Linked DNA regions of Homo sapiens. The protein of the gene in region 1 interacts with the protein of each later gene in a biochemical or structural test. Each region holds a gene or a part of one and is shown in the gene's direction. Other genes may lie near its edges.

What was found.
Region 2: of the proteins of SERPINB1 (region 1) and PRTN3, one has a biochemical effect on the other in vitro, tested with the Homo sapiens proteins (one study listed by BioGRID).

The regions. Positions count from the first base shown.
Region 1 is NC_000006.12:2,838,821-2,846,776, reverse strand, and holds the start of SERPINB1 (leukocyte elastase inhibitor), read left to right. Parts: upstream 1-4,913; 5' UTR 4,914-4,965; exon of another isoform or gene 4,966-5,180; intron 5,181-5,301; exon of another isoform or gene 5,302-5,561; intron 5,562-6,182; 5' UTR 6,183-6,190; coding exon 6,191-6,358; exon of another isoform or gene 6,359-6,407; coding exon of another isoform or gene 6,408-6,428; intron 6,429-7,310; exon of another isoform or gene 7,311-7,442; intron 7,443-7,956.
Region 2 is NC_000019.10:836,704-844,231, forward strand, and holds the start of PRTN3 (myeloblastin precursor), read left to right. Parts: upstream 1-4,295; 5' UTR 4,296-4,305; coding exon 4,306-4,366; intron 4,367-6,757; coding exon 6,758-6,923; intron 6,924-7,189; coding exon 7,190-7,331; intron 7,332-7,528. UniProt on the Homo sapiens protein: Serine protease that degrades elastin, fibronectin, laminin, vitronectin, and collagen types I, III, and IV (in vitro).

The DNA.
Region 1 (7,956 bases):
GGCAATATCAGGGACAAAGACCTGAAAGAAAATGAGCCTTCTAAGGTGAGACACTGAAAGGAAGCTGGTGAAATGAGGGGGAAAGAAGGATGCGAGGTCAGAGGAACTCCCCAGTGGACTGCTTACATGGATATTTGCAAGAGAAAATTAAATTATAGACATTCTAGGTACCCCAGTGAGGAGGACCAAGCTGGACTGAAAAGGAGAAATTACGTGATGTCCTGGCATTTATGTCTCAGCGGAAGCCAGTGATTTGTATTTTATAAATGATGGAATTCTGCCCTCTGGAGGATGAAGCTGTGTTACACAGCTGAAATTTTAATGCTAGGTTTCTTCCATTATTTGGCAGAAAATGAAAGGACTAAAAGAAACCCTGGCCAGGCGCGGTGGCTTGCTTGTAATCCCAGCACTTTGGGAGGCTGAGGCGGGCAGATTGCTTGAGGTCAGGAGTTCGAGACCAGCTTGGCCAACATCGTGAAACCCTGTCTCTACTAAAAATACAAAAAATTAGCTGGGCATGGTGATGCACACCTGTAGTCCTAACTACTCAGGAGGCTGAGGCAGGAGAATCGCTTGAACCTGGGAGGCGGAGGTTGCAGTGAGCAGAGTCAAGATCGTGCCACTGCACTCCAGTCTGGGTAACACAAAAAGACTCCGTCTCAAAAAGAAAAAAAAAAAGAAAAGAAAAGAAAAAAGAAGAAACCCTGAGAGATTATTTTATCTGTTTCTCTCATTTCAATCACGTAAGCTGCCTAAGATAGGAAAATGTAAATGATTTTAGACTTTCCTGGAAGCGTCTTGTTATCTGCAACCACTGTCCAGGGGCCAAAATTATTCACTGTCATGAAATTAGTCTCACCCAAAATTCTCAGACTATTATAAGAAAACATTATCTGTAAAATGATTTTGTGTTATTTTTCTAGTTGTGTTTATAAGTTACAAATTAGTTTTTTGGTGTTTTTTGTTTTTTATTTTTGAGACAGGTTCTCACTTTGTCACTCAGGTTGGAGTGCAGTGGCGCGATCATAGCTCACTGCAGCCTCATGCAACTCCTGGGTTCAAGTGATCCTCTCACCTCAACCTCCCAAGTAGCTGGGACCACAGGTGTGTACCACCACACCCAGCTAATTTTTAAAGTTTTTTAGAGATAGGGTCTCCCTATGTTGCCCAGGCTCAAAAAATTATTTATTAAAAACAAATGTAATAATTATTTTCATATTTCTCCTTTGCTATACTAAATACAGGCTATGGCACACAAAAATTGCTTTTTTTGAGTTTAAAATATTTCCAGTTGCTGAACTGCTAGTGGATTACTATACATTTTATCTTTTGAGGATAAAATAAAATATATTACCTAAAATAAATCACCTAAAATAAATTACCTAAAAGAAAATATATTATTTTATTTTACCTAAATAAAATAATAAAATAAAATAAAATATATTAGTACCTAAAATAAAATATATTACCCAGCGAGCACAACATGGAAATAATTTACCCACAAGAATTATATTTAACATATTTACAAAACGCTATTGTGAGACTTTTAATTTCACCATGCTGCAAGTTTATTAAAAGTGTCACAATTCACTTAATAGCAGTTTCTTAAACTGAACAAGAAAACAAGCTAATTCAAAATGACTTGAAGAGTGAAGAAAAAAATTCTCAAGATGCTTCTGAGAGTTCTGGGTGATCAGTAGCAGCTCGTTTGAAGAGCCAGAAAAAGTCTAAGTTCTACTTTCAGGAGCTGGAGGCAGGAGGAATAATTCAGGAATAATTCAAGGTGGAGGAGAATAAGGAAAAACGCTTAGGAGACTGACACTTCTCCATATTATTGTTGGATGAGATGGGCTAGGAAGACTCGGGGGCAGTAATGTGGCCGTGTCCACACATTTCTCCTAGACAAGAGGGATAAGAACAAGGCCGGCTTCTCAAGAAGAGCCCCTGTCTTAGTCTTTTCCTGCTGCTTTATCAAAACATCTTGTAAACACTAGACACCTATTTCTTACAGTTCTGGAGGCTGGGAAGTCCAAGGCTGGGAAGTTCGAGATCTGCAGGTGCAGACTCAGTGTCTGATGAGGGCATTTTCTTGCGGTGTTCTCATTTGGTGGGAAAGGCAGAAGGGACAAATGCTGTGTCCTCACCTGACAGAACAGATGTTTTATGGGCTGAATGTGTCTCCCCAAAATTCATATGTTGAAACTTTATCACCAATGTGATAGTATTAAGAGGTAGAGCCTTAAGAAGTGCTTAAGTCATGAGGGCAGAACCGTCATGGGTGGGATTTGGGCCCTTGAGGGAGTGCGTTCATCCCTTTCCATCCCTCCCACCGCCACGTGAAGATACAGTATATTTCCCCCTTGGATGCAGCAACAAGGTGCCATTTTGGAAGCAGAGAGCAGCCCACACCAGGCACCAAATATGTGGATGCCTTATTCTTGGACTTCCCAGCCTCCAGAACTGTGAGCAATACATTTCTGTTTTTAATAAATTGCCCAATCACAGGTATTTATAGCAGCACAAATGGACTATGACAGAAATTGATACTGAGAATGGGATGTTGCTATAACTAATACCTAAATATGTGGAAACAGCTTTGAAACTGAGTAATGGGTAGAGGCTGGAAGAATTTGGAGATGCATGCTGGAAAAAGCCTGTATAGACATAAACAGAGCTTTAAGGGAAATTAAGGGTGAGGGCTCAGAAGACAAGGAGAGCTGTAGGGAGAGCCTAAATCATCTTAGAGATTAATTAAGTGGTCTGGTCTTGATCAGAATGCGGTTAGAAGTATAGATGGTAAAGACACTTTTGATGAGATCTTAAAAGGAAACTGGAGGAAAGGTCATCCTTGTTACACAGTGGCAATGAACTTGGCTGAATTGTGTCTATGTCCTAGTGTTTTCTGAATGGCAGAACTTAAAGGCAATAAACTAGGATATTTGATGGAAGAAATCTCTGAGCAAAGCGTTGAGAGTGCAGCATGGCTTCTCTTGACTGCTTGTAGTAAAATGTGAGCAGAGAGAATGAATTAAAAACGAAGTTTATAATCAAGAGGGAAGCAGAGCTTAAAGTTTTGGAAAATTCTCAGCCTGGCCATGTAAAGAATGAAAAGGCATGTTTGGGAGGGAACACCAAGAGTGCTGCCAGGTTCACATTTGATAATGAGATGAGTATGTGTAGAAGGAAGCCAGATGCTATTTATCAAGACAATGGAAGAATGAACCCAAAGGCATTTCTGAGGTTACTGGTTCTGGATTCTCATCCCTGTCCCAGAGTGCCAGGACCCTGAGGGCAGAATAGTTTTAAGGGAGGACTCAGGACACCATGGAACCTTGGGGCTTGCTGCCTAGGGCTGCCTCAAGTCTCTGCCCCCCCACCCCCCACATTCTGGTGCAGCACTCTTTGGCCACCATCCCACGTGTGGCTTATGCAGGCCCTTGTCAGGCCACCCTTCCTGTAAGCCTTGGCAGAGTCCACGTGATGCTAACTCTGCAGGTGCACAGAGTGCATGAACTGTGGAGACACAGCCACCTCCACCTAGATTTTGAAGGATGTGTTGGGGACCCTGGGGGCCCAGTCTGAGAATTGTCACTGAGGTGAGGCTGCTGCAGAAAACCCTCACTAGGGCAATGTTTAGTGGAGCAGTGGGATTGGGGCCACTGCAGAGAGCCCCAAATAGAGTAATATCTAGTGGAGCTGTGGGAACAGGGCTGTCCCTGAGAACCCAGAACTGTCCAGCCACCAGCATGCAAGTCTATCCTGGGAGAGCCTAGACCTCAACCTGTGAGAGCTGCTGCATGGGTTGCACCTGGCAAATCCATGGGAGTGGATCCCCTGGACACTAGGGGACCCAGTCTCCACCCCCCTGTGCTCGGAATGGGGGACACAGCATCAAAGAAGATTATTCTGAAGCCCCAAGATTTAATGCTGTTTGCCTTGTTGGGTTTGGACTTACTTGGGACCAGATACTCCTTTCTTCTTGCCTGCTTCTCCCTTTGGGAATGGGAATGTACGTCCTATGCCTGTCTCATCACTGTATTTTGAAGGCCTGTAACCTATTTGATTTCACGGGCTCATAGCTGGAGGGGAATTTCACTTAGGATGAATTGTACTTTGAATCTTATGCCTTTCTAATTTAGAAGATATTTAGGTGAGACTTTGGACTTACATTTTAAAGTTGATACTGGAACTTTGGAGGCCACTGGGATACAATGCATGCATTTTGCATGTGAGAGGGGTATGAATTTGGAGGGCAGGGGCAGAATGCTATGCTTTGAATGTCTGTGTTCCCTGCAAAATTCATGCTGAAACAATCCTCAATGCAATACTAACAGGTGGTGCCTTTAGGAGGTGACTGGATTATGAGGGCACCTTCCTCATGAATGGGATTGGCCCCTTATACGAGAGACTTCACATGAGATTTGGCCCCTTTTGCCCTTCCACTTTCCACCATTGAGGACGCAGCAGCAAGCTGTCATCTTGGAAACAGAGAGCAGGTGTTTGGAACTGGTTCTGTTTCATCTGATTCTGGGGGCCCCTCTTTTTCCCTGTGCAAGATCCCCAAATTTGCTTCCTTCTCTCAAAGAAAGCTCCCAATATAGATGGGACTCAAAGGGAGTCATTTGCCCTCTAAGAGGTGTCACAATATGTCGTCTCAGTCATTCACACCTTAGTAAGAAAAAGCTTTTCAGGTCCTTGCCAGAGATTCGGGGAAAGGCTTTGAACTGAGAAAGAAGCCGCGCCCCTGAGGAGGGCGCTGCCCGGAAGCCACGCTCACTTCTGCTTGCACTTAGGCGACCTCGGGAGCTCGGACTCCTACGCAGTCACCGGGAAGGGCCGCCGCCCCGCCCGCGGCTGCTGGCCCGGGTGACGCTTCCGCCTGCTATAAGAGCAGCGGCCCTCGGTGCCTCCTTCCTGACCTCGCACCCAGCTCGGAGCCCGGAGCGTGCCTCGGCGGCCTGTCGGGTAAGGCCGGGCCTCGGAGCGGTGGCGCGGGGGCGGGCGCGGGGAGAGGCCAGGCTCCCTCGCTCAGCTTCCAGCCCGGCACCCCCCACCCCCCAGGCTCAGGCCCCTCAGACCCGCAGCTCCCTGCGCTCGCCCTCCCCGCCAGCTTCGCGCCCCCATCCCTTCCGGGCGCCCCGACGGAGACAGACGACCTCTGATCCCCCGCCCCCGCCTGGGTACAGGCCGGGCCAGCCCGCGAGGGAGGGAGGGAGGGAGGACGACAGATGCAGGCGGAAGGCAAGACTGAAACCTGAGATCAGAATGTTGTCCCTTCTCCCTGAATTCCCTTCCTCCCAGAGCTGTTTGTGACGGTTTCCAGGCAGCCCAGGGCCAGGCCGCGGCTCCTATCTGCAGCTGCAGGGAGAGAGAGGAGGAACCCCGTGCGATTCTAGAGACGATTTCACAACAAGGAGAAATCAGCTTTGTGCTTACATGCCGAGCAGCCAGCACGGTTCTTCTTTGCCTGTCCTCGGGGGAAATCAGGGCTCTGAGAGTGGAGATCGAGATGGGCTAGTGGGTGGCGGATGGGACGCTGCACGGCCAGACCCTGGACTGTGGTGGGTTTCCAAACTGGCACATCCTACACCGGCTCTGAGACTGTGGGCACTGGACCTCATACCTTTTGAACCTCAAAAATAAGGAAGAATTATATTATTATAATAATTACAGTGATACCTTTGCTGGAGTTTTAATGCATAGTAGGTAGCTGAGTCTCTGATAGAAGGCTCTTAGTTCAGGTGAAGGTAGGCAATGGATTCATTGCCCAATGAATCAGAGACTTGAATCAAAGGCTCAGAAGCACGTGCGCTCCCACACATAGGTTGGGAAGACCCAGGGCTGGGTGGGCCCTCCCACCCCACTAAAGCTGGGGTAGCTGGGGCCTGCCTTACCCCCGCCCCACCCCCAGACTCACCTGTCTGCAAGGTCAGAGCCCTTTAGGGCACCCTGGGTGCCCTAAAATCCCCTATAACTGCTGAGTCCTTGGCCAGAATGGTCCCACATTTGTGGGCCTGGGAAAGTGTTCTTGCCCTGCTGGAATAAAAAAGCGGGGAGAAAGTACAAGATCCAGGATGCCTCAGGGCGGTTGGCAGAAATTGAGGAAGCTTCTGGAGAAATAGTGCTGCCTAATCTGCTGGCGTGGGCAGTGGGCACCATGAGGACCCTGTTCTGTGTTGCAGTTTTCACCATGGAGCAGCTGAGCTCAGCAAACACCCGCTTCGCCTTGGACCTGTTCCTGGCGTTGAGTGAGAACAATCCGGCTGGAAACATCTTCATCTCTCCCTTCAGCATTTCATCTGCTATGGCCATGGTTTTTCTGGGGACCAGAGGTAACACGGCAGCACAGCTGTCCAAGGTCAGCAGAAACAAAAAAAAGGGTCTGCTTTCCTCCCATCTCCCTACGAATGGACAGTCTGCATGGAAAGGTTGTGCCTTTGAGCTCTTACCTTGTGTTTTCAGAACTGTATTTTTATGAGATCAGACTTTCAGAAAAGTCACACTTGTATGCAGGCTTCCATTCATCATCAGGTTTTTCCTAAGTACCTACCACGTACCAGGAACTGTTTTTCGTATTGCTGAGGAGACAGCAGTGAGCAAAGCTGACAAAAATCCCTGCAGGGCGAGGCTTCTGTTCCAGTGGATGAATCTGACAGCTTTCCTGAAAGGCATACTACATCCTCCTGAGCTAGCATCTTCCAGTTTTTGCTTTGCATATGATGATATGCAACTCATAAATATTGCCTGTTATATAACACTACTTTCAAGCATAATGAGAGGAATAAGACATAGGGAATGCATTATAGTGGAGATAGTGGCATTGCTTTTTTGCAAGGAAAAGAGAAAAAGTGACCCTGTGGTTCTGTAGTCCCAGGGTGCTGCGCATGGCTCAGTGGGCTGTGGCATAGCACGCCCTGCAGGGGAGGTGAGGGGGAGACCCGCAGCTTCAGGGGCGGGACCCAGCCCTTGGCGATGTGACAGGTCACTCTCATGCCCAGCCTTCCTTCTTGTCCATAATGGACATGGAGAGGACTTCTGTGCTTGGTACTCTTTAATTCTGAGAAGAGAACTCTAGCTCTCTCTCTCTAAGCTCAGCAGAAAGGAGTGGTAAAAGTGGAGGCTCTTCTAACATACCTGCCGCAAATTACACTGCACCTGTTCCTTGGCAAGGTGCAGCCTGGGATTCAAGTTCAAGGGGCTGCGAAACTTCTATTACTCATCACTTTAGATATGAAAGCATTTTAAATGTTTTTTTTAAATCCATTAAAAAAAAAAAACCTCTGTTACTAATTGTTAGTTGCTTCTTGCAGGGTTATATCAGTTCCTAGCTTGAGGTTTTCCAGGGACTTTAAAACCTCAGCAAAGAATAGTTTTAAGGACTCCTCCCCCATTTCCATTAAAGCAGATGGAGCATAGGCACAGTGCAAACATTCCATATCTCGGTGAGTAATGTGGACTTCGTACCCTATGCAATTTTGTTCTTTGTGTCTTAATCATAAAGGAACCAGCCTAGGTCTCATAAAACCACAAAGGGCCTCTTGATTTGTAACTGATACATGGGGAATTAAACTTTTGCCAGAATGTTAAGTTTAAGGAAGTTATTTTAAAATAAGTGAGTTACTGATGTTAATAGGGTAATAAAATTTTAAAAGCTTCAGTCTGTACTATCTTTGTGGTTCTGAATAGAGGATGAATCCTATTTTTACTGCTTATTTCTGAGAACTTTCAGTAAAATTATATTTGATACAGAATATAAATATGAACATACCATTTATTATTTTCTTTGGAAAAGGCAGACTTATATATAAATATTTAGTATCTTAACCACCCACATTTGTGGAACTGCAAGTGTAACAAAGAGTGATGTAAAAGCAATGTGTAAAGTTGTAAACATTCTGTCTCACGAAGCCATAAATTTTGGATTTCCTATTGTTTGTTCTGCAATGACAAATTAAT
Region 2 (7,528 bases), on another chromosome or scaffold:
CAGCGCTCCTGTCGCCCTGGCCTGTGCTTTTGAGTCCCCCCAGGACGCACAGGGAGCCTGGAGGACCCGGGGCCCGCGGGACGGTGCTGGGACCCTCCGGTCAGGACCGGGCTGCATCAGCCTTGCGTGGAAACAGATCCTGACGGGGAAGCCCACGTACAGTGAGGACGGGGCAGCCCCCTGGGCAGCTCTCGCGTGTGCTAGATCCAGCAGTGTGTGTGCAAGGTCTTTCTTTTCTTTCTTTTCTTTTTTTTTTGGTTGACAGCTTTATTGAGATGTCCTTCACACACACCAAGCAATTCACCCACTTAACAATTCGGTAGTGGCCAGATGGTGGGGGAGGATCGCTGGAGCCCAGGAGTTCCAGACGAGCCTGGGCAGCATAGCAAGACCCCTCTCTATTAAAAAAAAAAAAAGGCAGGGCGCGGTGGCTCACGCCTGTAATCCCAGCACTTTGGGAGGCTGAGGCCGGCGGATCACCTGAGGTCAGGAGTTCGAGACCAGCCTGGCCAACATGGTGAAATCCCGTCTCTACTACAAATACAAAAAACAAATTATTCAGGCGTGGTGGCAGGTGCCTGTAATCCCAGCTACTTAGGAGGCTGACGCAGGAGAATGGCTTGAACCCAGGAAGCCAAGGTCACACCACTGCACTCCAGCCTGGGTGACAAGAACAAAACTCCATGTAAAAACAAATCAAGAAACCTCAAATCCGTCGACCCCCACTGCTGCCCTGCAGAAGGTCCTATTACCGTCCTCACCCGCCTTTACAGGTGGGGAAACTGAGGACTGCAAGCCAAACAGCTTGCCTCAGCATGAGCTGACTCATGGCTGAAACCAACAGCACTTTTGTTGAATGAGAATAACCCTTTTATTTTGAGACGGTGTCTCGCTCTGTTGCCCAGGCTGGAGTGCAGTGACGCGATCTCAGCTCACTGCCCCCTCCACCTCCCGGGTTCAAGTAATTCTCCTCCCTCAGCCTCCCAAGTAGCTGGGATTACAGGCATCTGCCACCACACCCAGCTAATTTTTGTATTTTTAGTAGAGTCGGGGTTTCACCATGTTGCCCAGGCTGGTCTTGAACTCCTGACCTTGTGATCCATCTGCCTCAGCCTCCCAAAGTGCTGGGATTACAGGCAACAGCCACCGCGCCCGGCCACAGCTCTAGTTCTTTTTCTTTTTTTTTTTTTTGAGACGGAGTCTCGCTCTGTCGCCCAGGCTGGAGTGCAGTGGCACAATCTCTGCTCACTGCAAGCTCCGCCTCCCGGGTTCACGCCATTCTCCTGCCTCAGCCTCCCGAGTAGCTGGGACTACAGGCGCCCGCTACCACGCCCGGCTAATTTTTTGTATTTTTAGTAGAAACGGGGTTTCACCGTGTTAGCCAGGATGGTCTCGATCTCCTGACCTCGTGATCCGCCCGCCTCGGCCTCCCAAAGTGCTGGGATTACAGGCGTGAGCCACCGCGCCCGGCCCACAGCTCTAGTTCTTTAATACACATCAGGTCGGTCATGGTGGCTCATGCCTGTGATCCCAGCATTTGGGGAGGTCAAGGCAGGAGCGTCCCTGAAGGCTGGCAGTTCAAGACCAGCCAGGGCAACATAGCAAGACCCCATTTCTACAAAAAATTAAACAGCCAACCAAAAAAAAAAAAAAAAAGAAAGAAAAACTTTAGCTGGACATGGTGGAGCATGCCTGTGGTCCCAGCTACTTGGGGGGTTGAGGCAGGAGAATTGCTTGAGCCCAGGAGGTCGAGGCTGCAGTGAGCCATGATTACACCACTGCACTCCAGCCTGGGTGACACAGCCAGACCCTGTCTCAAAAAATATATATGTATATTTTAAAATATTATATATTATATAATGTAAATAATATACATGCTACATATTTTATGTATACATCTATGTTATATACATTAATATAGCCAGGTGCAGTGGCTCACACCTGTGTTCCCAGCACTTTGGCGGGATTACGGGCGGGTCACCTGAGGTCAGGAGTTCGAGACCAGCCTGGCCAATATAGTGAAACCCCGTCTTTACTAAAAATACAAAAAAAAAAAAAAATTAGCCAGGCGTGGTGGTGGGCGTCTATAATCCCAGCTATACAGGAGGCTGAGGCAGGAGAATTGTTTGAACCCGGGAGGCGGAGATTGCAGTGAGCTGAGATCGCACCACTGCTCTCCAGCCTGGTGACAGAGCGAGACTCTGTCTCAAAAAAAAAAAAAAATCCAAAGGGGAAAACAGTAACTGGACAGTGCAGGAACCGGCAGATGCCCTGACCACGTGGTCAAGGTTATTACCATCAGCACGAGACAGGCCGAAGCCATGGGCTTCGACGTGGGGGGCCTGAGACAGACACACGCCACGCCCGGGACTCCCTCCATTGAGTCCTGAGGCCACCCAGGACCATCCCCACGGAGGGACGCTCTGCAGAGTGACCACCAGCTCTCCTCAATGGTCCCAAGGGCTGAGGGAGGGCAGAGGGACTGCGCCCGCTGGAGGAGACCCTGACATCTGAAGATGGGTGGCTTGTGTACCCAGGACCCAGCAAAGGGTGGCTGGTGATACTCAGGGGGCTGGGGCAGAGGGGGCCATTTGGAATCAACTTTCGCGCCCTGGCTTCGATCACAGCCTGGAGGGTTGAGCAAGAGGACAGAATTTAGGGAAGCTGGGGGAGGGAGGCCGGGGGAGGGAGTTTGGGGAGCGGGGAGGGAGTTTGGACCCTTTGGACTTCTGTAAGCGTGAAATCCTTTCCAAATGAAACGTTAAAAAGCTTTTTTTCTTTTTGGCCTCCAAGTTCATTCAGTGCTTCTCTCCATTTCACTGTAGGTTTAAACCGTTCAGTTATAAATAAATAATTTTATCCTCTGTCCTCGGCTTTCCCCCGTTTCCGGCACTGCAGACATGGGGGCTGGATTTGTCTCTGCGGCGGGGCCATCCTGGGCACTGCAGGGCCCTGCCAGGAGCTCCCTCCAAGTCGTGACAACCACGGATGTCTCCAGGCCTCACACAGGGACCCCTGGGGGCAGAATCACCCCAGGGTTAGAGGATTCCACAGACCCCAAGAGACTCTGAGTCCCATGATCCTCTGCCCTGCTGAGGTCCCAGGAGGCTGCACACATTGAAATCCACACCCTGAGTGGGAGGGAGAGAGGAGGCGAGTCCCGGGAGCTGGGGTCCCCCGGGTTTATGCCGTACGCCCCATCGGGAGTTTATTCTGGTGTCCGGTGTGAGCAGGGGGCAGACTGGATTTTTTATTTTTTATTTTTATTTATTTATGTTTTGAGATGGAGTCTTGCTCTGTTGCCCAGGCTGGAGTGCAGTGGCACGATCTTGGCTCCCTGCAACCTTCGCCTCCCAGGCTCAAGTGATTCTCCTGCCTCAGCCTCCTGAGTAGCTGGGACTACAGGCGCCCGCCAACACGCGCAGCTAATTTTTGTATTTTTAGTAGAGATGGGGTTTCACTATGTTGGCCAGGCTGGTCTTGAACTCCTGACCTCAGGCGATCCACCCGCCTCGGCCTCCCAAAGTGCTGGGATTACAGGTGTGAGGCACCGCACCTGGCCATTTTTTTCCCCAAATAATGAACACTGGTCTCTCCCCTGGGCCCTGTGGACATCGGGGCTGGATCCTTCTCTGGGGCAGGCCCGTCCTGGGCACTGCAGGGTGCTAGGCATCATCCTTGGCCTCCACCCACTCCATGCCAGGAGCTCCCCTTTCGTGACAGCCACAGGTGTCCTCAGACCTCGCCCAGGGTCCCCTGGGGGCAGAATCACCTCTTGATTGAGAATCCTGGCCTTAAAGGGGGAAGAAAACCCCCAGACAAAACTGGCAGGAGGATGTTCGCTGGGGCCTCAGGTGAGGCACTGAGGGCACTCGTGGTGGGGCCCTGCCTTCCCGAGCTCTGCATCCTGTCCCCTGCTACGTCCTGCTGTCTGTCCGTTTCCAGCTCACCCACCCACGGGACACACCTGCCACGGCCGGCTTTGCTGGGGCCACAGGGACCTCGTCAGGGAGGCGTCTCCTTGTGGGTGGCACGTGGGCATGTGTTGCTCTGAGGGCTGTGGCCATGTTGCCCACCTGGCCAGGGACCCCCGACTTGGGTGGGTGACAGCCAGCCTCCCCGCCCCCACAAAGGTTGGGACCTTGAGCCCAAAGCCCCCACCTCCTCCCCGGAGTCCGTTCTGACTCCCAGGCTCCCAAGGCAAAAGGAGGAAGTGGGGACCCAGCCTGGGCATTGGGCAACTCAACGGCCTCTGGCATTGGGCTATAAGAGGAGCTTGACCGTGGGTGCACCCTGGACCCCACCATGGCTCACCGGCCCCCCAGCCCTGCCCTGGCGTCCGTGCTGCTGGCCTTGCTGCTGAGCGGTGAGTGAGCCACGTGCCCATCCATCCAGCCTCCAGGCCCCGGTGGATTGTGGGGAAATATCCACCACGAGGTCCATCCAAAGCCCTTCTGGCACAGCTGGGGAAACTGAGGCAGGGTCAGGGGAGACTCCACTCACTGCTCGGGACCAACGCTTGCAGGGGTGGGGAGGACAAGGGCAAGGGGGAGCCCTGGCCATTTGACTCAGTTGCCTATCTGTAAAACGGGCAAAACCCAGCCCTTCCCTCCTGAGGAGCTGTTTTGGGAATTAGCTAGTAACAGGCGAATTCCTGGACAGCACCCAGCCTTCAGCAAATGCTCAGTGAATATGCATGAATGAATGAATGAGTGAATGAATGAGTGAGTGAGTGAATGAGTGAACAAATGAATGAGTGAATGAATCAATGAGTGAGTGAATGAATGAGTGAATGAGTGAATGAGTGAACGAATGAATGAGTGAATGAATCAATGAGTGAGTGAATGAATGAGTGAATGAGTGAATGAATGAGTGAATGAGTGAATGAGTGAACGAATGAATGAGTGAATGAATGAATGAGTGAGTGAGTGAAAGGGTCGAGGAGTTAGTGATGCTGGAATCAGGGGAAGAAGAGAGCATGGGCCCCCTCAGGTCCCTATCCTGAGGGTGATTTTCTTTTTCTTTTTCTTTTTTTTTTTTTTGAGACGGAGTCTCGCCCTGTCGCCCAGGCTGGAGTGCAGTGGCGCGATCTCGGCTCACTGCAAGCTCAGCCTCCCGGGTTCACGCCTTTCTCCTGCCTCAGCCTCCCGAGTAGCTGGGACTACAGGCGCCCACCACCATGCCTGGATAATTTTTTGTAATTTTTGTAGAGACGGGGTTTCAAGGTGTTAGCCAGGATGGTCTCGATCTCCTGACTTCGTGATCCGCCTGCCTCAGCCTCCCAAAGTGCTGGGATTACAGGCGTGAGCCACCGCGCCTGGCCCTTTTTTTTTCTTTTTTGAAACGGAATCTTGCTCTGTCGCCCAGGCTGGAGTGCAGTGGTGCAATCTCAGTTTACTGCAGCCTCAGCCTCCTGGGGTCAAATGATTCTCCTGCCTCCGCCTCTTGAGTAGCTGGGATTACAAGCACACACCACCACACCTGGCTAGTTTTTGTATTTTTAGTAGAGATGGGGTTTCACCACGTTGGTCAGGCTGGTCTCGAACTCCTGACCTGAGGGGGATTTTCAATGCCTCAGTTTGTTCATCTGCAAAATGGGTCTCTTTGTTGGCTGATTTTTTTTTTTTTTTTTGCTTCTTTTTTTTTATTTTGTTTTGTTTTGTTTTTTTGAGATGGGGTCTCACTCAGGCATGAGCCACTGCGCCCAGGATTTTTTTTTTTTTTTTTTTTTTTTGAGACAGAATCTCACTCTGTTGCCCAGGCTGGAGTGCAGTGGTGTGATCTCGGCTCACTGCAACCTGTGCCTCCTGGGTTCAAGCGATTCTCCTGCCTCAGCCTCCCAGGCAGCTGAGATTACAGGTGCGAACCACCACACCTGGCTAATTTTTTTTTTTTTTTTTTTTGAGACGGAGTGTCATTCTGTTGCCAGGCTGGAGTGCAGTGGGGCGATCTTGGCTCACCACAACCTCCGCTTCCTGGGTTCAAGCGATTCTCCTGCGTCAACCTCCGGAGTAGCTGGGACTACAGGCACGTGCCACCACGCCCAGCTAATGTTTGTATTTTTAGTAGAGACAGGGTTTCACCATGTTGGCCAGGATGGTCTCCATCTCTTGACCTCAGGTGATCCACCCACCTCGGCCTCCCAAAGTATTGGGATTACAGGCGTGGGCCAACCGCACCCGACCAATTTTTCTGCTTCTTTAAAAACATTTTTTTAAATTTTGTTTTAGAGACAGGGTCTTGCTCTGTTGCCCAGGCTGGAGTGCAGTGGTGTGATCTCAGTTCACTGCAGCCTTGACCTCCTGGGCTCAAGCGATCCTCCCTCCTCAGCCTCCCAAGTAGCTGGGACGACAGGTGCACACCACCATGCCTGGCTAATTTTAAAATTTTTTGTAGAGATGGGGTCCTCACAATTTTGCCCAGGCTGGTCTTGAACTCCTGAGCTCAAGGGAGCCTCCTGCCTCGGCCTCCCAAAGTGTTGGGATTACAGGCGTGAGCCACTGCACCCAGCCACCTGGTCTGCGTCTTAAAAGCCTTCCTGACTCTCAGGACTGAAAGCTGCCACCAGGGCGCCTTTGGAAATCGTCGTAATTATAACCCCCCCGGCCTGGGCGCTGAGTCCTTCCCACCAGCCAGCAGGCACTGACCGGGTTGCAGATCGGGAGACGGAGGCTCGGAGAGGCCCAGGGGCTGCTCTGCCATCCCCCCTTTCCCTGCAGCCTGGGGGCTCCCTGACGCCTGGACTCCCCCCCTGCAGGTGCTGCCCGAGCTGCGGAGATCGTGGGCGGGCACGAGGCGCAGCCACACTCCCGGCCCTACATGGCCTCCCTGCAGATGCGGGGGAACCCGGGCAGCCACTTCTGCGGAGGCACCTTGATCCACCCCAGCTTCGTGCTGACGGCCGCGCACTGCCTGCGGGACATGTGAGCGGCCGCCTCCACACCCCTGTCCGCCCGCCCCGCCCTCTTCCTCCAGCCCTGGCCCGGCCACTGTCCCTCTGCCCGGGGAGGACCCAGCTAAGCCCCGTCTGCAGACCCCAGGCCCCGCGCGCGTGGGCAGTTCTGGGGGGAGGCCCGGGGCAGGGTCGCCGAGGGAGGGGTCTGGGGCTGCACCGCGGCCTCGGGAAGGGCCGGCTGTGGGCGGCGGCGAGTGTCCAGGGCGCCGAGGAGTGACCACCCCACCCCCGCAGACCCCAGCGCCTGGTGAACGTGGTGCTCGGAGCCCACAACGTGCGGACGCAGGAGCCCACCCAGCAGCACTTCTCGGTGGCTCAGGTGTTTCTGAACAACTACGACGCGGAGAACAAACTGAACGACGTTCTCCTCATCCAGGTGGGCGGGCAGGGCCGCGAGGGCTCGGAGGGGCACGGCCAGAGGGCTCCGGGACCCCCATTCCTGCAGCCAGCATTCATTGAGCACCCACTGTATACCGGGCCACGACCGAGGCCGCTGCAGCCTGGGTCCAGTGGCACTGGCCGGGGGAGACCGCTCCTTGGACACCAGGCCACTCCTCCTCCCCGCCTCTCCCC